Linked DNA regions of Homo sapiens: region 1 is linked to region 2. The links come from fine-mapping of genetic effects on gene expression. A gene starts in region 2. The other region holds a variant in brackets. All regions are shown on one strand. Distances are between the middles of the regions. Region 1 holds the start of RSPH6A (radial spoke head 6 homolog A). Region 2 holds the start of SYMPK (symplekin scaffold protein).

What was found.
Region 1: its variant is fine-mapped to the expression of SYMPK in whole blood (TOPMed, PIP above 0.99). The same link has a PIP of 0.9 or more in T cells and lung.

What each region holds. Positions count from the first base shown.
Region 1 is chr19:45,812,766-45,826,634 of GRCh38, reverse strand. It overlaps RSPH6A (radial spoke head 6 homolog A), which reads left to right and starts at 11,327. Exons shown (of 6, transcript NM_030785.4): 1 at 11,327-12,108. The coding sequence starts at 11,459. It overlaps SYMPK (symplekin scaffold protein), which reads left to right. Exons shown (of 27, transcript NM_004819.3): 17 at 262-409; 18 at 1,304-1,464; 19 at 2,760-2,868; 20 at 3,163-3,263; 21 at 3,789-3,879; 22 at 5,150-5,251; 23 at 8,489-8,676; 24 at 9,661-9,837; 25 at 10,058-10,153; 26 at 10,452-10,784; 27 at 10,938-11,225. The coding sequence ends at 11,075. RefSeq lists a silencer at 9,334-9,423 and an enhancer at 9,584-9,653. The variant C/G (reference allele first, on the strand shown) is at 10,478.
Region 2 is chr19:45,857,761-45,872,671 of GRCh38, reverse strand. SYMPK (symplekin scaffold protein) reads left to right here and starts at 9,525. Exons shown (of 27, transcript NM_004819.3): 1 at 9,525-9,614. It overlaps FOXA3 (forkhead box A3), which reads right to left and starts at 8,346. Exons shown (of 2, transcript NM_004497.3): 1 at 8,147-8,346; 2 at 1-597. The coding sequence starts at 8,215. RefSeq lists a silencer at 8,151-8,560 and enhancers at 9,201-9,610, 9,862-10,500.

The sequences.
Region 1 (13,869 bases), 46 kb after region 2:
CTTGGAGCTTAGTGAGCAAGGCAAGAAGCAGTGATGGGCAGATGGGCTGGAGAGGCAGGCAGTGAGGTGGTGCTGCGGGTCCGGCCCTGGCCAGGATATCTGCCTCCTGCACTGGGGACCAGCCCTGGGCCCTGGTAACAGCTGGGCTGCCCCTTCTCAGCCTCGGGCTTGTTTTCACGTGAGTGTTGCCATGCTCGCAGGAATAGCTGTTCTTCCTCTTACCTCTTCCCTGACCCTGCCCTTCTCCATCTTCCTCCTCAGGTGCGCTCCCAGGCCCTGCTGTTCATCAAACGCATGTATGAGAAGGAGCAGCTGCGGGAGTATGTGGAGAAATTTGCCCTCAACTACCTGCAGCTCCTGGTGCACCCCAACCCACCGTCTGTGCTGTTTGGAGCTGACAAGGACACAGGTTGGGCACAGGTCATCAGATGCATACTGAGCGCTGCTGTGTCCGCGCTCTGGGCCCTGCGAGCAGAGGGGATGAGTGGGGAAGCCACTCGGACACGAGTGACGGGAATGGGCAGGACTGGGACAGCCACCTGGGGGCTGTGGGAGTCAGGGTAGGGGGCATCTGGCCCAGCCTGGGGGGTCAGGGAGAGAGATCTGGAGGACGAGGAGAGCCAGCCATCGGTGGGGCCTGAGGAAGGACCAGGCAGGGCCATCTCAGGCAGGTTCCCTCAGCAGAGCCCTGGATTACAGACAGGTAGACTCAGACCCCGAGTAAATGGACCATTAAATGGGAAGGCTTGGGCCATGATAGGGCAGCACGGGAGGCCTGGCCCAGGTGCCAGGAAGCATTCCCAGGAGATGCACAGCCTTCGGGAGGCCCAGAAGCTGAGCAGGTGCCGTGGACCAGGCAAAGAGGAGGGTGGATGCAAAGGCAAAGAGACCAGGGCCCTCGGGACTGTTAGAATGGGTATGTGACCAACATGGAGGGCAGCAGAGCAGCAGCGGGCCGGGGCCACCCCATACAACACCTGGCAGACAGTGTGAGGCAGGGAGCTGGGGGTTTATTCTGAGGCCACAGGGCAGGCATGGCTGGGATTGGAGCCAGAGAGGGACAGGGTCAGGATCGCACTTTAGAAAGATCCTTCTAGTTGCCTTGTGTGTTGGCAGTCACGGGAGGCTGGAGGTGGGAAGTCCTGGTCCCCGCCATTTCCCTGCCCTAGAACAATTAGCTCCCCAGCCCCGGCTCCCTTCTCTGCCCTCCCCGGCTCCACTGCCCAAGAAGGGACATTCCTGAGGGTCCGAGGGGGTTGGAGAAGAGTGTGGGCCAATCTGATGCCCGCTCCTGCCCTGTCAGAGGTGGCAGCACCCTGGACGGAGGAGACAGTGAAGCAGTGTCTGTACCTCTACCTGGCCCTCCTGCCTCAGAACCACAAGCTGATCCACGAACTGGCGGCCGTGTACACTGAAGCCATCGCCGACATCAAGCGGACGGTGCTGAGGGTCATTGAGCAGCCGGTGAGGCCCCTGAGCCCACCAGGCCCTGCCCACCCACGGGCAAGGCTGTGTCCCCAGCTCCAGCTCTTCCCCAACCTGCTCCACCTCAGAGTGTGCCAAGCCCGAAGGGTGGTCACCCCGGGCCGACCCAGGCTGTGTAGCTTGCAGGCGGTCCGCATGTCACTCCTGAGGAAACGTCAAGTGGCCCGGCAGTTAGGAGCCTGGAGCTGATAGACCTGGGTTCGCGTTCACTTCTCGCTTTCTCACTGCGACCTTGGGCCCGTCAGTAAAAATGGGGAAGACGTTCCAGTCCCTCCACGCTGATGCAAGGAGTCCATGAACTCAGGCACATAAACCTCTGTGTTACTGTCACTTTATGAGCTGGCCTTCCCAGTGTTGCTAACGGGACTCTTTAGCTGTCATTACATAAACATAAGTCCTTCCTGCCCCTCTCTCTAGAGGCACAGGTCTGCCCACATGAGAAGCAGCTCAGTGACAGACTAGCACCTGAGATTAGAAGGTCTGCTCTTCCAGTTTGCAGCAGGATTTGAAACCACTTTTTTTCTTTCTGCCCCTGACATTTTTGGATTACAGAACATTTTCGTGATAAACGGGAGAGAGAAGTGTATGTTAATCCCCACCTATCTGCCATTTGGGTTCAGTGGGGCCCTTACCTGGAAAATGGGGATAACAGGCTTGTAGTTGGGAGGAAACAGATTTTTAGCCCCATTCTCAAGGTGGTCCAGCTGTGGAAAAGTGATCTCACTTTGCAGAAAAGTTATCTGGCAGGGCTGTGAGCTTCTCGAGGGCAGAGACAGTCGGTTTTAGTCAGGAGCGTAAACGTTACTGGGCAGAGGTGGAGCCTGGCCCTGGCTCCTGTTTGGCATTCACCGCAGAGCAGGCTCAGGAAGCAGCAGCAGGTGGAGCCTGGTCTGGGCTCGCAGCCAAGCCAGCTGCGCCTGAGAAACCGAGTCACGAAGCAGGTGGGTGGAGCCAGAAACATCTTCACCAGTGAACGAAGCACAGGGTGGGCATTCGAGGTCAGGTCAAGTCTGAGCCACAGAGGAGTGGCCCGCAGGAGGACAGCCCAGCCAGGGCTGGGAGCTGGAGCAGGCCCATGTCTGGAGGAGCTGCAGGGAGATGCCAAGGTTCTTCTGACTCTCCTGCCCTTCCCCACCTTTCCCCCGCCCTCCAAACCCTGTCACCTCAGTCTCACCCTGGGCGCCAGCATGCCCCGCAAGCCACCCTGCCGGGCAACACCTGACCCTCCCCTAAGCTCTCACCCTGGGTCTGGTCATCCCTGTCTCTGCCTCTAGATCCGAGGAATGGGCATGAACTCCCCGGAGCTGCTCCTGCTGGTGGAAAATTGTCCCAAGGGAGCAGAGACACTGGTCACGAGATGTCTGCACAGCCTCACAGACAAAGGTGACCCTGGAGACCCCCACCTTTCATGGCTTTCCTCCCTCTCCTTAGCCTTCCCCGGGCCCTGGGGATCTGAGCTGCTGGGTCCCCAGATGGTCGTACCTCTTGCGGGTCTGTGCCTGTCCTAGGGCCTCAGTTTCTCCATTTGGAACAGTGTGGTGCTAATTGCACGTGAGCAGCCAAGGGTGAAGTTGCCATCCCTTCCTGCACACCTGCCTGCTTCTCTTTCCTGGGTGCCCACCCTTTCCCACGCTCCCCTCCGCCTCCAACTTGGTGCCTCCTGCTGCTTCCATGCAGTCCCACCCTCCCCAGAGCTGGTGAAGCGGGTCCGGGATCTCTACCACAAGCGACTGCCAGACGTCCGCTTCCTCATCCCGGTGCTCAATGGGCTGGAGAAGGTATGGAGCTGGAGGCCTGTTTGTCCCTGCTACCTGGGACATGTGGGACTGGGAGGGGCAGGGCAGCACGTTGCTTCAGCAGCAGTTGAGCCAGAGGCACATAGCAGAGGGCAGAAGGCACCTTGCCTGTGGTCAGAAGTCATGGAAGCCGCCGACACCTGGGTACCCTGGAAATGCGGAGCAGCTCCTGGCCTCATTTGCATGGGCACCCGGGTGCCAATGGCTCTGCTGCTTCCTCCTCTACCTCAAGCAGGTCCCTTCCCCTCTTTGAGACTCGCTTTTCTCCTCTGTCAGACAAGGATCAGGATGCCTCTTGGGGGCACACACATGTGACATGCAGGGGGCTCAGATGGGGTGAGAGCTGGGGAGAAAGCTCCGCCCTGAGGGTGTGGTGAGGGTAGGAGGGGCTCAGTGAGCCAGAGCTTGCCCTCAGCTCCCCAGGGCGAGCAGAAGGGGTGGCTTGTCTAGAAGGGAAATGAGGGTGTATGTGACTCAACTCCCACCCCCACCACCTTCTCCCTGTAGAAAGAGGTGATCCAGGCCCTGCCTAAACTCATCAAACTCAACCCCATCGTGGTGAAGGAAGTCTTCAACCGCCTGCTGGGCACCCAGCATGGTAGGTGATGCAGCCTCATCCCCACCAAGAGGCCCACCCACCCCAGGTGCTGGGGCAGAAGGCAAGGTGCAGGCACCCCCCTCAGGGAGAGAGGGCACATCCTGCTCCCTGGGACACCAGCTGTACTGGACATCTCCATGTGTCCCGGAGCTCCCAGGCCACCCTCTGGGATATTTTTATGATGGTTTCATTCACAGCAGGGGCAAGACCGTGGAGCTAGGGGCGGAGGCTCCAGCAGCATCTTCCCTTTTAGGATCTGGCCACACACCAGCCCCTCTCAGGCCCGGCTCCAGTCTGGCCCCTCCTCAGATCTTGCCCGAATCCCTCAAGCTGTGGGCCAGGGGCATTTCGTTTTGACACAGTCAAAAAGAAACAAAACTTGAGGCGAGGCGGGCGGATCACAAGGTCAGGAGATCGAGACCATCCTGGCTAACACAGTGAAACCCCGTCTCTACTAAAAATACAAAAAATTAGCCAGGCGTGGTGGCGGGCGCCTGTAGTCCCAGCTACTCGGGAGGCTGAGGCAGGAGAATGGCATGAACCCGGGAGGCGGAGCTTGCAGTGAGCGGAGATCGTGCCAGTGCACTCCAGCCTGGATGACAGAGTGAGACTCCATCTCAAAAAAAAAAAAAAAAAAAAAGAAGCAAAACTTTCAACTTAGAAAAACTAGCAAGGGATTGTTCACCCTTACCCCAGTGGTTGGTGCTAGAGAAAAAATGGAGGATGTCTGTTCCACGCAGACCCTGGTGGTTTAAAACACACATATAGATGGCTCTGGGACCATCAAAATAGCAGCAGCAAAGAGCCACTCCACCAGCCTCCCCTCCACTCCCCCAGGCCCCACACAGCAGAAGGCTCCAGCCACTTTTTGGAAGCCTGTAGCCTGGCTCCATCTTGCCCTGTGCCACAAATGCCCATGACCCCCTGTGCCGCGGTGGAGTCTGTGTTGGGGACCACACGAGGAGGTGGTCCTACCCTGCCCTCGGGGGTGCACAGCCCAGGGGCAGAGAGACCCAGCCGTGCCACACGCTACCCAGGGTGGGAGCCCAGGATGGGGAGGAGCACACAGTGGCAACCTCACGCTGCCTGAGGGCTGCTGCTGCCTTCGGTGTCCCCTTTTTATGTTGTCAGTCGCTTCCCCTGTTCCAGCCCTGAAAGCAGAGGGCACCTCATCTTTGCTCGCAGCTCCCCCGATCTGGGGAACTCAGACCCATCTCTTCACTTATGCGTCCGCACTGTCTTCCCCCACCCTTCCTCCCGCCTGCTGCAGGTGAGGGAAACTCAGCCTTGTCCCCGCTGAACCCTGGAGAGCTCCTGATCGCATTACACAACATTGACTCCGTGAAGTGCGACATGAAATCCATCATCAAAGGTGAGGCGCTTCCCCCCCACTCCAGTGGCCTGGCCCCTGCGACGCCAGGGCAGGACCTCAGTCACCCACATGCCCCCACTGGAATCTGCCAAGTCAAAGACTGTCACTCACAGCCCCACCTCAGAGCTCTGGAGAGCCACCTCCCTCCCTCCCTCCTTTTCTTGCCTCCTCTTCCCTCCCTCCCTCCCTCCCTCCTCCTTCCTTCCTCCCAGGTTTTACCCTTTACAACCCACCTTTTTCTGCCTCTGATGTACCTGCTGTGCCCTGGCACAGAGTGGGCCTAAAGCAGTTGGGTAGCCCCACCCCTAGCCCCGAGGAACAGAAGGAAGCAGGGCACACCGTGAGTGGTAGAGGCGCAGCAGCAGGGCAGACCCAGGGCTCCAGGGCACTTGTGGGCCAGGGTAGGTGAGGCAGGAGAGCTTGCCTGCAGGGCGGCAGGGTTGGTGACGAACTGGCCGCCTCACGATGGCCCCCACTCACTGAGCACTCTGCGCTGGGCTCTCCCTGAACGCCTACAGGCCTGAGCCTGCTGGTCCGCCACTTGGTGGGTATGTTCACTTCCATTGTGTAGACAGGAAATGGAGGCTCCAGAGAGGTTAGGTGACTTACTCAGGGCCAAGCAGAAGCTAAGTGGTGTGGTAGAAGAAACAGAATCTGAAGTGAAACGGACCTGGGTGGGAATCCCAGCTCTGCCGGTTCCGCGTCTAAGGACCACCTCCCCTGAGAGCGCCCACCCCTCCATCCCTCCTGAGCAAGGTTTCTGGGCCAGGAGCCATCCTGTCCCACGGAGCTGGACACCCTCACTGTCGCCCTCTATACTCAGAAGACTGCTGTCCTTTGATTTCTCTTCTCACCCTCAGACGGGAAGGGGCTTCCTCTCTGTGCTGCTTACTTTCGTGTTCTAGCTTGAAACAGCTTTTCAGTGACTTACTTCCTAACCTTCCTCTGCAAGTTCTCTGAGAAACGTTTAAGGTCAAGAGAGCAGCTTATGGAAATGTCAAACCCACATTATAAAACCCAGGAGGCACCAAGGCCTCTCGTGGGAGACCAGCAGGGAGGAAAGATCTCCAGGCTCATAGGCCAGGGCTGTGGTCTTCACATTCCCCGACCCCTTTGGTGATCTGAGGAAAGTTCTAGCCCATTCCCAGGACAGTATGCTCATATTATTTGCATACAGTTTGAGGGGGTTCACACATACACACACACACCCCAAGGCCATTTGTGGACCCAGATTAGAAGCCCTGAGGATCCTAGGTCCAGAAGAAAGGGCCTTGTCGGAGGCCACACAGGCCACCAGGAGCCAGGCCCCTGAAGATCCTTGGCCCAGGAGAAAGGGCCTTGCCAGAGGCCACACAGGCCACCAGGAGTGAGGCCCCCAGAGGGGTCAGCAGGGCCTACCCTACACCACCCCACCCTTCAACACGCCCAGGCGTGCACGCTGCAGGCCAGACAACCCTCCAGCTGGTGTCCCCAGCACCCAACCCAAGTTTTTCTCCTGCTCAGGCACCAGCAGTCTTCCTGGTTGCACTCTAAGCTCCAGATCACAAAGTCGAGTCCTTTTGTTGTGCACTGTTCACTCCCCCGTAGACCACCCTGTTCCTCTGGGGAGCTTGTCTATAACTAGACCCACTCCTGGTAGTCCAGCATTAAGAAAAGTCAGCACCTCTGCTCACCCATATCCATCCTGGGTAGTGCTGGGGACACAGGAAAGACAGCCCTAGCCCTGTCCTTCCAGGGCTTACAGTCCAGGGAGAGACAAGAAGTCCCTGGCCAGTAACAACTGAGAGGGGTGGCCTGGGACTGGGCAGCCCAGAGGGGCCATGTAACCCAGCCTGGGTGTGGGACATCAGGGAAGACTTCCCGAAAAAGGGGACACTCAGGCTGAGACCAAGGAAGGATGAGTAGGCGGCAGCAGCAGGAGACTGCAGGGACCGAGGGAGGTGCTTGCTGGCTGGTTCTGGACCTAGGGGACGAAGGAGGGGGCCTGGTCAAGGGAGGAGGTCAGGCTGTCGCCATTGGGAAAGGTGCCCCTGGGGCCTGCCCACACAGGAGTCTCGCAGGCCGAGGTGGGAATTTGACCTTGTTTCTTGAGGGTCTCTGGGAGGCAAGTCAGGTCTGAGCTTTCCAAAACACCCTTCAGGCTGCTATATGGAGAATGGATCGGAGGCTCGGGGGAGGCCCAGGTGGGGGGCTGGGGCAAAGCCGACAGGGAAGGAAGAGGGGAGGGGTGATTCTGGAGCCTTGGGGTGGCTGAGCAGGCAGGACCAGTGACCACCTGGCCCTGACGAGGAGCAGGGGCTTCCTCGGTTTCTGGCAGGTCCTCACCTCCACTGTCTGCTCTGCCCATTCAGCCTCCTCCCCACCTGTCTACGCCCCCCCCCTTAGAGACCCCACCCCTGTTCTCCATTAGCCTCTCAAGGATTTGGGGGGTTGGGGTGCTCTTCTGGCTCAATAAAGACTTCCTGGTTGACACTCACATGGCAAGTGGTGTTTGGGGAAGGGCTTCAAAGGCAGCTCCTGGGGCCTCCCATTAGCACTGTGGATTGGGGCATGGCCACCCACTCGGGGAACAGACCCCAGGGCCTGCCTTCATGGGTGCTTGTGCTGTGCCAACCCTCTGGGTCCTACTGGTACTGGCACTGGGTGTTGAGTCGGGGGGTCATCGTATGCCCCGGCCCCAGCCTTCTCTTGTCCCTCCCTTCGCTATTACTCTGATTGTGCCCATATGCCCAACACAGCCCTTAGCCTGGCACCCCCCATCTTCCCAGCACCAGCGCAAGCCCTGTATCCTTGTCAGGACTGGGTGGGCAGTCCCTTGGCCCTCTGACAAGCTGGTCTGTGGACTGCTGTTCTCTCTGGAGGGGCTGGTAGAAACCAATAGCTGCCTTCCCTCCCTAGCAGGGGTGGGGGGCCCTGCCACTCCCCCAGGGCTTGGCAACACATCTTTCCCAAGGTCGTCCTTAAAGTGAGGGGCCACGGGTTCCCTGTTCCACCCATTTTGGGGCTTCCTGGAGTTGGATGTCTTCTCCCTTGAACCAAGCCTGCAGGTTTTCCAAGGGCGGGGCTTGCAGTGTGCCTTCTGCTGGGTCGGGGGAGTCTCCTCTCTCCCGCAGGGGCTTTAGAAGTCAGGGCTTTAGAAGTCTTCCCCTCACATGGGCAGACAGCAGAGGCCGGGACTCCCACCTCCCAGGGGGCAGCTGGGCAGAGAGGACAGGCCCACTCTCCGCCTCCTCGCAGCCACCAACCTGTGCTTTGCGGAGCGGAACGTGTACACGTCAGAGGTGCTGGCCGTGGTGATGCAGCAGCTGATGGAGCAGAGCCCCCTGCCCATGCTGCTCATGAGGACCGTCATCCAGTCCCTGACCATGTACCCCCGCCTGGGGGGCTTCGTCATGAACATCCTGTCCCGCCTCATCATGAAGCAGGTAACCCATCCCCGGCCACCCCGCCTCCAGGCTGCAGACAGCAGCTTCTAGCCTGCTTGCCCTCCCCTTCCCCCGTCTGACCCCGGAGGGAGCCCGGTGGAGGACAGCAGGCTCTGCTCTGCCTCCTGCCAAGAAAATAGCAGTGCTCCAGGGTGTATGACTGGGCCAGCTCCCAGGTGATGAGGGAGGGCAGCTGGGTGGTAGGAGCTGTGGTAACCCTCAAGGGGTGTGCACCCGGGAGAGGCATGGCTGCTCCTCACCCTCCACCGCTGTGTGCCCGGCCAGGATGCATCCCAGAGCTGAAAAATGGCCCAGTTTTTTAAGAGGTGCTAGAAATTTGGGCTTTAGAAATACCACGATAAGGCCAGGTGTGATGGTTCACACCTGTAATGCCAACTCTTTGGGAGGCCGAGACAGGAGGACTGCTTGAGCCCAGGAGTTTGGGGCTGCAGTGAGGAAGAAACGCGCCACTCACTGCACTCTAGCCTGGGCGGCAGAGTAAGACCATCTCTCAAAAAAAAAAAAAAAAAAAAAAAAAAAAGAGAACAAAAAAACCAAACCCCGCAGGACTAATGTCGCCCCCTGGAGGCTGCGGTGAGAATGTACATGTGACCCAGGACAGGTCCCGGCACCGGCACGGACCTCCGCTGTTTAGCAGGGGTAATTTCGCCCCCTGGAGGCTGCCGTGAGAATGTCATGAGAGGTGCTCCCGCAGCACTTAGCCTGGGCCTGGCCCAGGGGGAGCTCTGGTAAAAGGCGGCTGAGTTTTCTTCCACCCCCTTCCCAAGTTGCCCTCGTGGTCCAGCCGCCTGGATCGGGAAGACAAAGGCCTCTGGAGGGAGGTCGGGGCTGCTTGTTGCCCATCCAGAGGAATCTTGGATGGTGGGATTTGGGCATGGTCTTGGCAAGGTCTTTCTCCCAGTGTCAAGGCTCGGGGGGATGCCTGTGTGCCTCTCCCGACGGCTCCCTCCCTCCCTGGTTCAGGTGTGGAAGTACCCCAAGGTGTGGGAGGGCTTCATCAAGTGCTGCCAGCGCACAAAGCCCCAGAGCTTCCAGGTCATCCTGCAGCTGCCGCCCCAGCAGCTGGGAGCCGTCTTTGACAAGTGCCCAGAGCTCCGGGAGCCCCTGCTGGCCCATGTCCGCTCCTTCACCCCCCACCAGGTACCCCTTCCCCCCACCAGGTACCCTTTCCCCCCACCCAGGGTGTGCGGTGGGCGGCCCCCTGGGTCCCTCTGGTTGGTGGGGACTGGATGGAGGCGGACACAAGAAGGCCCTGCACTGCTGGGAGTTCTGGAGGGTTAGGGCCCCCGGACCTGAGGTGTGCAAATGGGGTCTCTGTGCCAGAGCTGCCCCCAGCGCCCCCTTCCTGCTCTCCACCCAGCAAGCTCACATCCCTAACTCCATCATGACCATCTTGGAGGCCAGCGGCAAGCAGGAGCCAGAGGCCAAGGAGGCGCCTGCGGGGCCCTTGGAGGAGGTGAGGGCCCTGCAGCCCACCCATCTGGATCCCCAGACTCCCACCCCCTACCCCAAGCCAGCAAGGCTCACCATGGCCTCCTCCTGACCCCGAGAGACTCAGGCCACCCCTGCCTCTGGGCCACCCGTCTCCCAGGGGATGCTCCTGCTGGGAGTTGGGGGTCTGGGGGACAACTGCCCCTTCCTCCCCATGCTCTTGGTGAAGAACTCAAAGACCACCTCAGGGTGGTTCCTTCTCTTTCCGGCCGTCCTCTGAGCCACCCACCTCTGAGCTTCTGTGTGGCCCTCCCTATCCCCAGGATGATCTGGAGCCCCTGACCTTGGC[C/G]CCGGCCCCAGCACCCCGGCCCCCTCAGGACCTCATCGGCCTGCGACTGGCCCAGGAGAAGGCCTTAAAGCGGCAGCTGGAGGAGGAACAGAAGCTGAAGCCGGGAGGAGTGGGAGCCCCCTCCTCTTCCTCCCCCTCTCCCTCTCCGTCGGCCCGGCCAGGCCCGCCCCCGTCTGAGGAAGCCATGGATTTCCGGGAGGAGGGGCCTGAGTGCGAGACCCCGGGCATCTTCATCAGCATGGATGACGACTCGGGGCTGACCGAGGCCGCGCTGTTGGACTCTAGTCTCGAGGGCCCCCTACCCAAGGTAGGGAGAGCAGCCTCCGCTGCGAAGGAAGAAGCCGGATCTGGGCCGGGGTGAAGGTGGGGGAGGAGGGGCCATCAGGGGGCAGGGCCTGAAGGGGAGCGTGGAGGTGACCGCGCCCTCCACCCGGCTGCCCTTTCCTTCCCCGGTCACCAGGAGACGGCAGCGGGCGGGCTGACCTTGAAGGAGGAGCGGAGCCCCCAGACCCTCGCACCTGTTGGAGAAGATGCTATGAAGACTCCCAGCCCGGCTGCCGAGGACGCCAGGGAACCCGAGGCCAAGGGGAACAGCTGACGGGGCTCGAGGGGGAAAGGGGGTGGGACAGGGACTCGGGGCTGGGGGACGGGGCGGGGCTTGACCTGCGGGTGCTTTGCCTTAAAAAGAAATAAAAGATGTGAACTTGGGCAAGTTACTGAAAAGAAAAAAAAAAAGGGATGGCGGGCCTGGGGCGCGGGTGCCGTCTCGAGTCTGGCGCGACGTCCACCGTGGGGCTGCGCGGGATCGGGAGTGCGCGCCCAGAGCCTGCGCGGAACCCACCCTGGCCCGCTCCCCGCGCCCTCCACGGGTAACGGCCCCCTCTCTCGGTGCTCAGAAACCGGCGGTGTCGACAGGTGGCTCTCGCTTGGCCTCCTTGTCTGCAAGCCTTTCTCCTAGAGATCTGTGCCTCCTGGCGAACCATGGGAGACCTGCCGCCCTACCCTGAGCGCCCTGCCCAGCAGCCTCCGGGCCGGAGGACTTCTCAGGCCTCCCAGAGGCGGCACAGTCGGGACCAAGCTCAGGCCCTGGCAGCGGACCCCGAGGAGAGGCAGCAGATACCTCCAGACGCCCAGCGAAACGCCCCTGGTTGGTCACAGAGGGGCAGCCTGTCCCAACAGGAGAACTTGCTGATGCCCCAGGTCTTCCAGGCTGAGGAAGCCCGGCTGGGTGGCATGGAGTACCCATCTGTGAACACGGGCTTTCCCTCAGAGTTCCAGCCTCAGCCTTACTCTGATGAAAGCAGGATGCAGGTCGCCGAGCTCACCACCAGCCTAATGCTGCAGCGGCTCCAGCAGGGCCAAAGCAGCCTGTTCCAGCAACTGGACCCCACCTTCCAGGAGCCCCCAGTCAACCCCTTGGGCCAGTTCAACCTCTACCAGACAGACCAGTTCTCTGAAGGTGCCCAGCACGGGCCTTACATAAGGGATGACCCTGCCCTTCAGTTCTTGCCCTCTGAGCTGGGCTTCCCACACTACAGTGCCCAGGTGCCTGAGCCCGAGCCTCTGGAGCTGGCCGTGCAGAACGCCAAGGCCTACCTGCTGCAGACCAGCATCAATTGCGACCTCAGCCTGTGAGCAGGGGCTAGGAGTGGGGCGGGTGGGGGACCCAGGCAGGGAGGGGCCCCACCCGAAGTGCCTGCCTCAGTCAGTCAGACAAGGGATCATCCCTCATGGAAAACCAGTGACTCTAATTCAGCTGAGTCGGAATCAATGCCAACAACAGCTAGCATTCACTTCCCAGACATGTGCTGGCACTGCACACACTCACCTAATTCTCACCGGAGATGAGCACATCAGCTCATCCTACTTTACAGAGGAGGAGACCGAGACACAGAGAAGTTGGGTCGCTTACCCAAAACTACACAGCTAGGATATGGCAGAGTCAGGATTCCAGAACACGTGATTTGGCTCCCCAAGCCCTCTTGCTTTTTTTTTCCCCCAGACATAGTCTCACCCTGTCACCCAGGCTGGAGCACAGTGGCGTGGTCTTGGCTTAGGGCAACCTCTCCTTCCCAAGTTCAAGTGATTCTTCTGCTTCAGCCTCCCGAGTAGTTGGGGTTACAGGCGCGCTCCACTTCACCCAGCTAATTTTTGTATTTTTAGTAGAGGCAAGATTTCACCATGTTGCCCAGGCTAGTCTCAAACTCGACCTCAAGTGATCCGCCCATCTCAGCCTCCCAAAGTGCTAGGATTGCAGGCATGAACCACCGTGCCCAGCCCTCCTGAGACCCTCTTATCCTGCAACTAAACCTCCCTGCCTGAGGAAGATACTTGCCAAAGCCACTTAGCTACAGTCACAAAACACTGCTCTCAGCCTCCATTAGATACCCAGGATGCTCTCATTCTAGGAGAGTGGACAAGAAACAGAAAAAGTGATAAACTGAAGCTAAGGACTCAGGTGAAAAATAAGGGAGGCTAAGAGGGCTAGGGAACACATGAAATAGTGGGGGTCCAACCAGGTGCGGTGGCTCACGCCTGTTATCCCAGCACTTGAGGAGGCCAAGACGGGCGGATCACCTGAGGTCAGGAGTTCGAGACCAGCCTTGCCAACATGGCGAAACCCTGTCTCTACTAAAAAATACAAAAATTATCAGGGCATGGTAGCATGGGCCTGTAATCCCAGCTCCTCGGGAGGTTGAGGCAGGAGAATCACTTGAACCCGGGCGGCAGAGGTTGCAGTGAGCCGAGATCGTGCCACTGCACTCCAGCCTGGGCAACAGAGCGAGACTCCATCTCAAAAAAATAAATTGTGTGGGTCAGTGAAGGCCTGTCCAAGGAGGTGACATTTGATTAGGGCCCTGAAGGAGTCGAGGGAGAGCATCTTGCAGATGACCGGAGGAAGAGTGAGCCAGGCAGAGCACACTGCAAATGCAAAGGCTCTGAGGCTTGCTGTTTTTGAGGAGCAGTAAGGAGGGGCTGGTGTGTCTGGAACCAAGGGAGGAAGAGGGAGAGCGGGAGAAATGAGGTTGATGAAGTAATGGTTCTTATTAAAGCACAAAGCTGGCCGTGTCCCTCCAATGCTCAGAACCTGCTATGGCTCCCCATTGCCCACAGGGGGAAGCTCAGACTCCTCACCACAACCTTCAAGGCTCCTGGCCTGAGACATATAAGGCCTTGCTCATGCCTGTGATCCCAGCACTTTGGGAGGCTGAGGCAGACAGATAACTCGAAGTCAGGAGTTCAAGACCAGCCTGGCCAACATGGCAAAACCCTGTCTCTACTAAAAATACAAAAAGTTAGCCAGGCGTGGTGGCACACGCCTGTGATCTCAGCTACTCGGGAGGCTGAGGCAGGAGAATCACTTGAACCGGGAGGCAGAGGCTGCAGTGAGC
Region 2 (14,911 bases):
CCCTTTTTTCACCTTCTCCTCCAGCTTGAAGCGTTTCTGGCGGCGCAGGTAGCAGCCATTCTCAAACATGTTCCCTGAGCTGGGGTGTAGGGCCCAGTAGGAGCCCTTGCCAGGCTTGTCTGGGGAACGCGCCACCTTGACGAAGCAGTCGTTGAAAGACAGCGAGTGGCGAATGGAGTTCTGCCAGCGCTGCTGATTCTCCCGGTAGTAAGGGAAGAGGTCCATGATCCACTGGTAGATTTCACTCAAGGTCAGCATCTTGCCCGGCGCCTGCTGGATGGCCATGGTGATGAGTGAGATATAGGAATACGGTGGCTTGGCGTGTGCCAGGGGCCGCCGATACCCCTTCGGCATCTCCTTCCCGTGCACCAGCCCAGGACCCGGGGCCCCGTACCCGGAGCTGCTGCTGCCACCGCTGACACCCAGGCCTGGGAAAGTGGGCCCCAGGGGGGCTGCAGGTGCTGGGGGTGCCAGGGGTCCTGAGGGCAGTGGGGAGGCAGGGAGCCCCCCAGGGGGATAGGGAGAGCTTAGAGGATTCAGGGTCATGTAGGAGTTGAGGGGGGCCATGGTGGGCACTGGGGTCACCGGCGAGTAGACCTAGGGGAAAGATGAAAGGAGGGGTCAGTGGGGCTCCACTCTGCTGGTCAGCAAAGGATCCCAGGACCCACTGAGTGTCCGTCTGTCTGTCCATCTTGCCTTCTCTACAAATCCCTTCCATCATTACCTCTATCTGTAGAAAGCAGTCTCTCAAGGTCTCTCCTCACTCCCTGGACACGCCCTTTCTGCCCCCTGCTTTCCCACCCACCATGCTCCCATACACTCAACATCATCCTTTAAGTGATTCTCCAGGGTTCGGGACTCCCAGGGCAGTCTCTGAAACCCTTTGAGGATGTCCACGAAGTCAAAACTATTTTCAAAATAATGCTATTTTTTTTTTCGAGGCAGAGTCTTGCTCTGTCGCCCAGGCTGGAGTGCAGTGGCGTGATCTCACCTCAATGCAACCTCCGCCTCCTGGGCTCAACCAATTCTCCTGCATCAGCCTCCAGAGCAGCTGGGATTACAGGTGTGTGCCACCACGCCAGCTTTTTTTTTTTTTTTTTTGTATTTTTAGTAGAGACAGGGTTTCTCCATGTTGGCCGGGCTGGTCTTGAACTCCTGACCTCGTGATCTGCCCGCCTCGGCCTCCCAAAGTGCTGAGATTACAGGCATGAGCCACCACACCCGCAATCCTAAGTTATTATTAGCCCTTTTCACTCTCTTTCTCATGAAGTGTACAGTGGAGTTTTCCAGGGGGTGTTGATATTCCAACAGAGAGAATGAAGAAGCAACCAGGAGAATCCAGCTGTCTTCCACTGGGCCAGACTTGATTTGCAAAAATGGAAAAAAACAGTGTCGCTCTTTTGACTAAATTTTTTGAAATTTGGTTTTTTTAATAAAAATCTTTTACACTAACAAATGATTGCTATTTTTAAATGAATACATGTTTGTAATATTTCTCAGTTTTAATTGTAAATACTGTAAACGTAGATAGACATAACCCACATCAACAGAAACTGTTTGGACTCCTAAATAATTTTTTTTTTCTACAGGGTCTCACTCTGTCACTCAGGCTGAAGTGCAGTGGTGCAATCGCAGCTCACTGTAGCCTCAAACTCTGGGGCTCAAGTGATCCTCCTGCCTCAGCCTCCCAAGTAGCTGGGATTATAGGCATGCACCGCACACCCAGCTAATTTTTTTGTATTTTTAGTAGAGACGGGGATTCACCATGTTGCCCAGGCTGTTTTCAAACTCCTGGCCTCGAGTAATCCTCCTGCCTCAGCCTCCCAAAGTAATCCCAGAACTTTGGGAGCCAAGGAGGGTGAATCACTTGAGGTCAGAAGTTCAAGACCAGCCTGGCAACGTGGCAAAACCCTGTTATCTACCAAAAATACAAAAATCAGCCGGCATCGTGGCACAGGACTGTAATCCCAGCTACTCGGGAGGTTGAGGCAGGAGGATCGCTTGAGCCCAGGAGTCTGAGGCTGCGGTGAGCTGAGATCATGCCACTGCACACTCCAGCCAGGACAACAGAGCAAGACTCCATCTCAAAAAAAAAAAAAAAAGAAGGGGGGTGGTCCTGAGACCAAAACATTTAATAACTGCTGGTTTATTAGGTAAATCAGCAGTTCTCAATTTTAGTAATCATAAAGAGTTATTATAGGCCGGGCACGGTGGCTCACACCTGTAATCCCAGCACTTTGGGAGGCCGAGGCAGGTGGATCACAAGGTCAGGAGATCGAGACCATCTTGGCTAACACGGTGAAACCCTGTCTCTACTAAAAATACAAAAACAAAATTAGCCGGGTGTGGTGGCGAACGCCTGTAGTCCCAGCTACTTGGGAGGCTGAGGCAGGAGAATGGCGTGAACCCGGAAGGTGGAGCTTGCAGTGAGCTGAGATCATGCCACTGCACTCCAGCCTGGGCGACAGTGAGATTCTGTCTCAAAAAAAAAAAAAAAAAGTTATTATAACTCTGTAATAATCTAACATATCTAACATATATGTGTAGCTCTCTTCAATCTTTTAGCTTATAAAATTACTGCATTTAGGCTGGGCACAGTGGCTCACACCTGTAATCCCAGCACTTTGGGAGGCCGAGGCAGGTGGATCACTTGAGGTCAGGAGTTCGAGACCAGCCTGGCCAACATGGCAAAACCCTGTCTCTACTAAAAACACAAAAAATAGCCAGGTATGGTGGCGGGCGCCTGTAGTCCCAGCTATTCAGGAGGCTGAGGCAGGAGAATTGCTTGCACCCAGAAGGTGGAGGTTGCAGTGAGCCGAGATTGCACCACTGCCCTCCAGCCTGGGCGACAGAGCAAGACTCTGTCTCAAAAAAAAAAAATAAATAAATAAAAATAAATTACTGTATTTATACATAAAAGTGTTTGAATATCAGAAATCACTTTTCAACCTAATAATATTATCCATTTACTATATATCTTCAAATCTAAGACTTCTCTGGAAGCTGCAGCATTACTTTATATATTAATACAAATGGGAAAAACACTCAGTTAAAATCATAGGACACTGTTGACTGTAAAATGCATCCCATTTTTGGAAATGTTCAAATGGGGGGAAAAGGTGCATCCTAGGTCAATGGAACACGGTAGATCTTGCAGTGCCTCCTAAGTAACCCTCTGTATATTCTTTCATTCATTCAACCAATATTTATCAGTTAGCTGCTCCAAGCACTTCACAAGAATGGTCTCCTTTAATCTTGACAACCATACTATGGGAGGAGGTGTTATGATGATGCCCATTTTACAGCTGAGCTAGCTGAGGCCCAGAGAGGTTGCTGGGGTCACACAGCAAGAATGGGGGCAGAACTGGGATTCTGCAACCAGGCAGTCTGGCTCCAGACCTGTTCCGGGTCACGCTATAAACGCAGTGACTAGGCCAGTTGCGGTGGCTCACGCCTGTAATCCCAGCACTTTGGGAGGCTGAGGTGGGGGGGGTGGGGGTGCGGATCGCTTGAGGTCGGGAGTTCGAGACCAGCCTGACCAACAGGGAGAAACCCCGTCTCCACTAAAAATACAAAATTAGCCGGGCATGGTGGCACATGCCTGCAATCCCAGCTACTAGGGAGGCTGAGGCAGGAGAATTGCTTGAACCCAGGAGGCAGAGGTTGTGGTGAGCCAAGATCGTGCCACTGCCTCCAGCCTGGGCAACAGAGCAAGACTCCATCTCAAAAAATAATAATCATAAAATAAAATAAAAGCAGTGACTAAGACAGACAGAAATGCCTGCCCTCGTGGTGCCAACAGTCTAGCAGGAACACAACAGTGAACAGAACACGCCAGGAAAACATAGGCATGCTGGAAGGTTGTTTCTTTCTTTGTATCTACTTATCCCTTCTCAACCACTGTCTCCCATCCTCTCTGCCCCATTCTCCACCTGGACCTTTCCCCACTGCCTCCTCCGAGGCCTGGGGTCTCATGGCACTGCGTGGGTGGGGGAATGCTGCTATATACAGCACTGGCTAGAGCCACCAAATGTGAGTTAACTGGATACCGCCTAGTCTCCTGCCACTGTAAGCTTTTTTTTTTTTTTTTTTTTAAGAGAGTCTCACTGTATCGCCCAGGCTGGAGTGCAGTGGTGCAATCTCAGCTCACTGCAACTTCTGCCTCCCAGGTTCAAGCGATTCTCCTGCCTCAGCCTCCCGAGCAGCTGGGATTACGGGCACGCACCACAACACTCAGCTAGTTTTTGTATTTTTAGTAAAGACAGGGTTTCACCATGTTGGTCAGGCTAGTCTCGAACTCCTGACCTCAGGTGATCCTCCTGCCTCGGCCTCCCAAAGTGTTGGGATTATAGCCATGAGCCACCATGTCTGGCCCTACCACTGTAAGCTTCTGCAGGTCACAAGGTCCGGAGAAACGAGTCTGGCCAGGGTGGCTTAGGGAATCAGAGAGTGGAGGCAACCAACTCAACCCTAAGTCTGAGTTCCAGTCGAGAAATCCTCTGCTCTTTCCTTTTCATGTCTCTCCAAGGAACTCTTTCATCATGTCTCTTTGAATCTCTGTTGGCTATTTTTGCCGTTGTGTTACCCGTCTCAGTACTAGTACCCATATTCCCCTCTCCCATCTCCCTCCCCACCCCCGCATTGTTTTCCCTTCTGTCTCCACCCTAACCTCTTTTGCTCTTCCTGCCCACCCTCGACCCCTCCCGAGTCCTCTCCCATCTTTCTTTCCCCTCCATCTCGGCCCCTGTCTCTCTCTCCATCCTTCCATCTCTTTCTCCCTTCCTGGGCACTCTCTCTCACTATCCGACTCTACCCCACTCCCCTCCCAACCCCAACTCCCACCTTTCTTCCTCCTTCAGCCCATCTTCTTGTCTTTTTTTTTTTTTTTTTTTGAGATAGAGTCTCACTCTGTCACCCAGGCTGGAGTGCAGTGGCTCCATCTCGGCTCACTGCAACCTCCGCCTCCTGGGTTCAAGCAATTCTCCTGTCTCAGCCTCCCAAGTAACTGGGATTATAGGCATGCACCACCATGCCCAGCTAAGTTTTGTATTTTTAGTAGAGATGGGGTTTCACCATGTTGGCCAGCCTGGTCTTGAACTCCTGACCTCAAGTGATCCACCCTCTTCGGCCTCCCAAAGTGCTGGGATTACAGTCATGAGCTACCATGACGAGCCACCATCTTCCTATCAATCTATCTATCCATCCATCCATGCATCTATCTATCTATCTATCTATCTATCTATCTATCTATCTATCTCCCTCCCTTCAACAAATCCATTCCCCCTCACCCCAAGTCTTACAGTGAAATTGCAGCCACAGTTACTCCCTTCCCCCATGCAGGCTCTCCCGCTGGTTGGTGGCTTCGGGTCCCCTCCCCAGAAAAAGAAAAGGGATGAGGTGAGAAGGTGATGGATTAGAGGGGTCCACAGAGTTTCCAAATCCCCCTATACCTCCACCCCCCATTTCTGCAACCCAGTCAGGCTCTCTGGTATTGCAGAGTAAGACAGACAGGGACCCCAGGGCCCTCCTTTCTGGCTCCCCACCCACCCGGAAGTCCTCCTTGAGGTCCGACCTCAAGCACTCCAGCTGCCCTAATCCACCCTAGGCTTTCCCACGCCCCGGGGCTGGGATGAACCCCTGGTGTCCGGGTCTGAGCCGGATCTCCCCTGACAGGGTGGGGCTGAGATTGGGGGGAAGCCCTTGGGGGACCCGCACCCCCACACCAGGAGACTGGAATTTCTCCTCTTTCATTTCCTTATTGTCTCTGGAGAAGGGTGTGACAGGGAGCAGAGGAAGGCAGTGTGAAGCCAGAAGCCAAGTTTCTAGTCCCAGACCCAACCCAGGACCCCAGTGTTCTGCGTGCGGGGCTTCAGAGTTAACCACCTCTAAAACAGGGGAGCAGCTGGACCAGCTGATCTGCAAGAACCTGAGGCCAACAGGGATATCCCAGGATGGTAACTTTCCAAGTTCTTTCCAGACAGCAAGCTGCCCTGAGTGTTAACGTCACCCCAAGCGGGAGGGTGCTATGGGCAAGAAGTGGTTTGGGGACCCTCTCAGCTCTCAGTTGCTGGCTGAGTGTAGGTATTTCTCTCCCCATTGTTCTGACCCAAGGGGAAGAGGTGGGCTTATCTGATGGGAAGGCTGGGGAGAGCCTCAGACAGTATCACCCAACCATTTCCATTCCTCCAAATACTGACTCTCCCAAAATATGCCCTGAAATGCTGATTACCTCCAGACTGTCCCTCTACTATTATTATTTTTTGAGATAGGGTCTCATTCTGTCACCCAGGCTGGAGTGCCGTGATACGATCACAGCTCCCGGCAGCTCGAACTCCCAGCCTCAAGTGATCCTCCCACCTCAGCCTCCCAACCAAGTAGCTTAGACTACAGGCATGCCTGACTAATTAAAAAAAAATTTTTTTTTTAAAGACAAGGTCTCCCTATGTTGCCCAGGCTGGCCTCAAACTCCTGGGCTCAAGAGATCCTCCCACTTCGACCTCCCAAAGTGCTGGGATTACAAGTGTGAGCCACTGTGCCGGCTTTCCTTCAATTTCTGACACAATTTCCATACAAATTGTCCCCTAAACTTGGATCTATTCAGACTGTGCCCCAAATATCAACTCCTCCTGCCTAGACCCCCATCATTTACTTAAGATGTGCCCCCAAAACAACTGTAGTTGGTTTGTACAATTGGTCTGTAGGTGGTTCCCTTAAATCAGGTCCCCAGACTGAGTTCTGCAGAGGTCCAGCTGGGATCACCCCCACTACCTGGAACCCTCCATTTCCCACCTGGGTCTCTGCCTTCCGCATCTCACAACTGATACCTCCAGCCACCCTGCCTCCACCTCTCAACACTCCCAGTCCCTTTCCCTGTTGGCCCTGCCCCACCCCACGTGCACCTCACACCTCCCCAAACCCAGGACTGGCCCTTCCCAGGCACCTTGCCCAGCCCTGAAGGCCTGGGGATCCAGGAGTCCCACCCTACAGTTTCGAGCCCCAGACCCAAGACTCAGGCACACTGGGGCCCCCGCAGTCACCAGATCTTGACTCCTTGGAGAACCTAGCCATTCCTGCCCCACACCCCACCTCAAGCCCACAGTCCCCTTCCAGGTTAGAAGTCCAAGTGTCCAGACCCCCATAATTCTCAGACCAAGAACCCAACCCCCAGCCCCAACAACCTCACAACGTTGATTACAGAGTGAGGTAGCTAAGGTGTAGGGGTCGTTGCAGCAAGACGAATGGGGGTCAGACTTGAGGAAGGACTTTCTGTCTGTCCAGGTGAGGGGATTAGAATATGCCGCCACCCCCCACTCCAGGGAAGCCTTGTCTGAGGTGAGACTGGATGGGAATTTTAGCAATAGCTGGAGGTTGCTGGACTGGCGGGGAGCAGGGGAAGGTGCACAATCTAAAACTCTCCATCTTCCGACTTGGGGAGTCCCTGCGGAGGGTCATGGGTAGGGATGGGGGGGTGGAGATCGGCCCCTCTCCTGCCAATGCTGATGGCTACATCTTCTGCTCCCAGATGCCCAACTCTAAGCCACCTGTTATTTCAGACTCCAAAAACGAAGCTTCATCTCTGAGCACCCCCATCTCTGACCCCTGAGCACCAATCCCTATGTCTGACCCTACCTTAGATTACCAGCTGATCCTTAGCCCCGAACCCCGGTTCTTTAACACTGTGTGCTGGCCCTGAGCTCCCACCTCAGTCTTCCCCTTAATGGTGACTCCTCCTCCATCTTTTAGTCTTTCTTTCCCTCCAACTTTGAACCTCACATCCTGAAACCCCCTAGTCTGTCCCCTACCCTGGAACTCTGATTCCTATCTTTGGTTTGTACATATAAATCCCTTGCTTTTTGGGGCTCCAACACCCGGCTCCCAAGTTTAAGGTGTGACCCGACCCTTGGCTAAATTTTCCTGACTTCCATTTTTAAGCCCTGGCCGCGGCGAGGCTGCCCAAACAGCGCTCCCATCCATGCCTCGTCCCCGGTCCCCGACTTCCACACCTGGTCTCCGTGTTCCCAGTTCCTCAGCTGCCCAAGTAGACGCCTTTGCCTCCATTTGAACCCACAACCAGTCCCTGCTCCATGTGAGCCCACACCCCGATACCTGCCCCCAACTTCCCGCTCCGCCATCCCCGAGGACACACCTCGCCCGCCTCCGGGTAGTAGCTCCACTCGGCCAGGTCATGGGCCTCCATCTTCACTGAGCCCAGCATCCCCCGGGCTTACGCCCCCACCCGCCCCCGCTCCGGCCCCGGGGGAACGGAGCGCTCTGGATCTCTCAGCGGGCACGGCCCGAGCTCCCACCGGCGCCCGCCCGTCCGACCGCCCGGGGTACGGCTGTCCCGAGCGCCGCGGGAGGCGGCCACGCTTTATAGCCGGGACACCCCCGCCCTCGCCCGCCCCGGGCTCCCCTCCCGCCTCCCCGAGGGCGGCGCGCTCGGACTGGGGCGCCCCCTGCGGGATCGCCAGGAGACAGACCTCAGGCGCCGGGGGCCGCAGCCCCAGGACGCGACAGCTGGGGGTGATTCAGGAGTGAGGGAGCTGCCCGCAGCGACGCTGCAGATACCAAGGGCCCCGAGGTCAGAACTCTGGAGCCTTTCTACCTCAGGGGGCTTCATCATCTCGGCAGGAGAGGACGAAGAGCCAGAGCCCTGCATGACCGTGGCGGAAGAAAGGGGAATCAGAACGCTAGGGCCACTATGCGACTACAAGGACCCGTAAAAGGTCCCCGAAATCACATCCCCATTGGACAGACAGGAAGACTGAGGCTTCCGACGGCTAGAAATGCTTAACTTGGCCGGGCGCGGTGGCTCACGCCTGTAATTCCAGCACTGCAGGAGGCCGAGGCGGGCGGACGAATCACTTGAGGTCAGGAGTTTGAGACCAGCCTGGCCAACAGGGTGAAACCCCATCTCTATTAAAAATACAACAACTAGCTAGGCGTGATGGTGCGTGCCTGTTATCCCAGCTATTCGGGAGGCTGAGGCAGGAGAATCGTTTGAACCTAGGAAGCGGAGGTTGCAGTGAGCCGAGATCGCGCCACTGCAGTCCAGCCTGGGAGAGAGAGCGGGACTCCGTTTCCAAAAAAAAAGAAAGAAAGAAAAGAAAAGAAAAAGAAATGCTTCAGACTGTTGAAAGGGTCAAGAACAAAGATGGAGGGGATCGGGGCCTCTCCGCAGACCCCACTAGGGCAACAGACCACCTCCCCTCCAAGACCCAGGAGCTTCGCTGCCCGAACTCCGCACTCTCCAAGACCAGCCAGCCGTCCAGGGACTCAGCACCACTGAGAACTCCATTTCCCAGAATGCTCTAGCTCCCTTTCCGCCCGGTGCCTCCGAAGGGACTACATTTCCCAGAAGGCCTAGCCGGACCCAGAGCCGGAAATGAAGGGTCTGCTCGCCGTAGTATGGAGGCGGGCAGAATGCCGCTCGCACGGGACGAGGCATGGGCGGGGTCGGGCTGTGCTCTGGACTCCATTTCCCGGCGGCCCTGGGTGTGTGGCGCGTGCGCACCGTTCCCGGCGACGAACGGAAGATGGCGGCGGCGGCGGCGGCGGAGTGTAGGAAGAGGCACTGCTGAGGGGGCGCGAGGGGAACGGAGGCCAGAGCTGCGGTGAGCGGGAGGCGGCGTTTGGGCCCGGAGACGAAAGGAGGAGGCTCCTAAAGAAGCAGGGGCTCGGGCGGGGAGGGCATCGCCGTGGGGAGAGGGGAACAGTGGCTTTCGCGACCCATGTTTCTTCCCTTGCTCAGGACCCTTCCTTGGCTCCCTAGTGCCCTCGAGGCAAAGTTCCAACGTGGCCCCCCGGGCGCCACCGCCCCGCAGACCTCGCTTGCTTCGACTCGGCCTCTTTGCTTTTTCCCCCACCTCTAACAGCCGCCCTGGCCTTTCGGTTCCTTAAACTTGCCATGCGCTTTCCCGCTTCGGGGATTTTGCACAGGCTGTCCCTTCTGCCTGCAACATCCTTTTACCCATTCGGCTTGGCTAACTCCCATTTCATCCTTCGGGTCTCGGCACCAACGTCACTTCCTCTGCGAAGCCCTCCTTCCCTGCCCTCCATCCAGAAATCCGCCTGTTAAATGCTTTTGTCGGTCCGTGTTCCTTCATGTCACGTGTGGTCTAATTTGTTATCCGACTCTTATCTGTGTGCTGTTTTATGATGTCTATGACCGTGTGTTCCATGAAGGTAGGGACTAGGTTTGTCTCTGTCGCCACTGTGTTCTCAGCACAGCGCCAATCACGCCGGAGACGCCCAGCTAATGTTCGTTGAAGGAATAAAAGATACTCCTAGAGCCAGTTTGGGGAAACAGGGTAGTCATCAGATTCCTAGGTAGCAGTGGGGCAGGGTACCACTTCTTAACGAGTACATCGAGAGGGAAGGGGAAACAGTGATACTGTTCATCATAGCAAAAGGCTACACGCATCCCAAATGTTCTTAAATAAGAAGATTGGCTGAAAGAAACTATAATACATCCACATAAAAAATACTATGCAACTCTAAAAAGGAATGAGGTAGATAAAAGGAAATGATGAAAATCTCTATACACTGATATAGTGGCCTCCAACATATATTAAGGGAAAACAAGTGAAGTGGAGGTTGGTGTTTATTGTATATGCTTTTTCTTTTTTTTTTTTTTTGAGACAGGGTCTCACTCTGTCGCCCAGGCTGGCACGATCCCAGTTCACTGCAACCTCCACCTCCCTGGTTCAAGTGATTCTCCCACCCCAGCCTCTCGAGTAGCTGGGATTACAAACGTGCCCCACCACACCCAGGTAATTTTTATATTTTTAGTAGAGACGGGGTTTCTCTGTGTTGGCCAGGCTGGTCTTGAACTCCTGACCTCAAGTGATCTGCCCACCTCAGCCTTCCAAAGTGCAGGGATTACAGGCCTGAGCCACCAAACTCGGCCTGTGTAGGCTCCTTTTTTTTTTTTTTGAGACAGAGTCTCACTCTGTCACCCAGGCTGGAGTGCAGTGGCGTGATCTCGGCTCACTGCAACCTCTGCCTTCCAGGTTCAAGCAATTCGCCTGCCTCAGCCTCCCAGGTAGCTGGGATTACAGGCACACCACCACGCCTGGCTAATTTTTGTATTTTTAGTAGAGATGGGGTTTCACCATGTTGGTCAGGCTGGTCTTGAACTCCTGACCTCGTGATCCACCTGCCTCCGCCTCCCGAAGTGCTGGGATTACAGGCGTGAGTCACCGCTCCCGGCCCTGTGTATGCTCTTTTTGTAAATGAAAGGGAAATATGTATATATGGGTTTTTTTATTTTCATTTTTTTTCCTTTTTTTGCATAAAATCTAGCTCCTGCAGGAGAATTTTGTGTATGTGTGTTTAAAAAAGAACAAAACAAAACTGAAAGCATAAACCAAAAAGCAGAAGAAGAATGAAACAGGGTAAAATATTTTGGTTGATCTGAATGTATTATCATGAAAAAAGTGGAAATGTTTATTATGGGGTTTTATTTTATTTTATTTTATTTTTTGAGGCAGAGTCTCATTCTGTCGCCCAGGCTGGAGTGCAGTGGTGTTGGGATTACAGGTGTGAGCCACCATGCCCGGCCTGTTTTTTTTATGTTTTGACTGGGGACGGCATGCCATGCCGGTTGTCTGGTGGCCAGGATCCTTGGCTTACGTAAACAGACCTGGGGGTAAAAAACAATTCCTTTCAGATAAACAGTACTGTAGCATAGTGGTAAGGAAGATATGCAGCCATGCTGCTGACTCTGCCTCTTACAAGCTATATGCCTTTGGTCAGGTCACTTTACCTCCCTGGTCTTCAGTTTCCTCATCTGTAAAATGAAAATTAAAAATACTAACTCCCAGCCTGGGCAACATGGCGAAACCCTTCTCTACAGAAAGTACAAAAATTAAATGGGGATTCGCCTGTAGTCTCAGCTACTTGGGAAAATGAGGTAGGAGGATCGCCTGAGCCCGGGAGGCAGAGATTGCGGTGAGCTGAGATTGCGGCACTGCACTCCAGCTTGGGCAACAGAGTGACACCCTGTCTCAAAAAAACAAAAAATGTAAACCTAACTCATGTATATTAATTCTAATATATACATATTAATTCATTTAAACCTTGGTGTCTGAGGTTTAAATGAGTTAATATGTATATCTTAGAATTGTGCTTAGCACATATTAAGTGTTCTCTCTCTCTCTTTCTCTTTCTCTCTCTGTGTGTGTGGGTTTTTTTTCTTTTTTTTTTTAATTTGAAACGCAGTTTCACTCTTGTTGCCCACGCTGGAGTGCAATGATGTGACCTCGGCTCACTGCAACCTCCTCCTCCCAAATTCAAGCGATTCTCCTGCCTCAGCCTCCCGAGTAGCTAGGATTACATGTGCCTGCCACCATGCCTGGCTAATTTTTTTGTATTTTTAGTAGAGATGAGGTTTCACCATGTTGGCCAGACTGGTCTCAAACTGCTAACCTCGGGTGATCCACCCGCCTTGGCCTCCCAAAGTGCTGGCATTATAGGCTTGAGCCACCGTGCCCGGCCGTGTTCAATATATATTAACTGATTATTTTTTCTTTTTTTTTTTTGGAAACAGGTTCATCAGGTTCATGCTCTGTTGCCCAGGTTGGACTACGGTGGCCCAATCATACTTCACTACAACCAGGCTCAAACAATCCTCCCACCTTAGCCTCCAGAGTAGCTGGGACTAAAGGTTCATGGCACCATGCCTGGCTAATTTTTTTTTTTTTTTTTTTTTTTTTTTAGATGGAGTCTTACCGTGTCTCCCAGGCTGGAGAGCAGTGGCATGATATCGATGCCCAGCTAATTGTGCATATGTCTAGAGATGGTGTGTCGCTGTGTTGCCCAGGCTGGTTTCAAACTCCTGGCCTCAAGTACTCTTCCTGCTTCAGCCTCCCAAAATGTTGGGATTATAGGCATGAACCCCTGCACCTGGCCTTCTTTTTTAGTTTTTAGGCCTAGGCTAGTCCTGAACTCCTGGCCTCAAGCCATCCTCCCACCTAGACCTACCAAAATGCTGGGTTTACAATTGTGAGCCACTATACCCGTCCTATTTTTGTTTTCTTTCCTTTCTTTGTTTTTGTTTTGTTTTATTTTTGAGACAGAGTCTTGCTCTGTCATCCAGGCTGGAGTGCAGTGGCGCAATCTCGGCTCGCTGCAACGTCTGCCTCCCAGGCTCAGGTAATTCTCATGCCTCAGCCTCCCAAGTAGCTGGGATTACAGGCATCCATCTCCATGCCCAAGTAATTTTTTTGTATTTTTAGCAGAGACTGGGTTTTGCCATGTTGGCCAGGCTGGTCTTGAACTCCTGGCCTCAAGTGATCTGTCCACTTTGGCCTCCCAAAGTGCTGGGATTACAGGAGTGAGCCACCACACCATGCCCTTTTTTTTTTTTTTTTTTAAAGACTTGTCAAGTGCAGTAGTGAGAAAGGGGGAAAAAGTAGAACAAGTATAGCTATTAGGATTCAAGAGTGAAAGGGCAGGAATACTGAACCCAGTGATTGGGGAGGCCGTTTGGCAGTAGTGTTCACTCATTCAGCAGATGTTTATTGAGCTCCTGCTAGGTGCCAAGCACTCTTCCGTGCTGGGAATATAAAAAGTGAAGGAACAAAATCCCTGTTCTAGGCCGGGGGCGATGGCTGAGACTTGTGATCCCAAGCACTTTGGGAGGCCAAGGAGGGTGGATTGCTTGAGTGCAGGAGTTCAAGACCAGCCTGGGCAACATGGCGAAACTCTGCTTCTACCAAAAAATGATTTCAAATAAATAAATCACTGTCCTCGTGGAACTTATAAATATGTAGTGTGTGATGATGATAAATGCTATGGAGAAAAAGCAACACAGATGGGGATCGAGAGGAAGTTAAAATTTGAAATATGGTCGTCGGCCGGGCGCGGTGGCTCATGCCTGTAATCCCAGCACTTTGGGAGGCCAAGGCGGGCGAATCACCTGAGGTCGGGAGTTCGAGATCAGCCTGACCAACATGGAGAAACCCCGTCTCTACTAAAAATACAAAATTAGCCAGGCGTGGTGGCACATGCCTGTAATCCCAGCTACTAGGGAGGCTGAGGCAGGAGAATCGCTTGAACTTGGGAGGCAGAGGTTGCTGTGAGCTGAGATCACGCCATTGCACTCCAGCCTGGGCAATAAGAGGGAAACTCCGTCTCAAAAAAAAAAGAAACATAGTCGTCAGGGAAGACCTTACTGCAGAGACATGTGAGTGGAGACCTGAAGGAAATGAAGAGGGAAGGAGTTGTGCTGATATCTAGGAGGAGGAATATTCCAGGCAGACGGAAGAGAGGCACAAAGTCTTTGAGGAAGGGGCATGTTGGGCATGTTCACAGGACAGCGAGGAGGCCAGAGTGGGTGGAGCAAAGAGCCCAGGGGGAGAGGCAGTCAGAGGAAGAACAGGCCAGATGCCATAAAATCTTGTAGGCCTTGATGGGGACATTGGCCCTGACCCTGAGCAAGATAGGGGGTGACAGGCAGCAGGGAAACTAGGGAGGAGGCTGTGGCTCGTCATTCATTGAGGAGACCCCTATCATGTGATACTACTGTGAATAGCTATTGGGTAGTTCCTTTTAAAAAACGTGTCATTTTCGGCTGGGCGCTGTGGCTCACACCTGTAATCCCAGCAATTTGGGAGGCCAAGGTGGGCAGATCACCTGAGGTCAGGAGTTCGAGACCAGCCTGACCAACATGGTAAAACTTCGTCTCTACTAAAAATACAAAAATTAGCTGGATGTGGTGGCACATACCTGTAATCCCAGCTACTTGGGAGATGAGGCAGGAGAATTGCTTGAACCTGGGAGGGTGGAGGTTGCGGTGAGCTGAGATTGTGCCATTACACTCCAGCCTGGGAAACAAGAGTGAAATTCCATCTAAAAAAAAAAAAAAAAAAGTATTTTCGGCTGGTTGCGGTGGCTCACGCCTGTAATC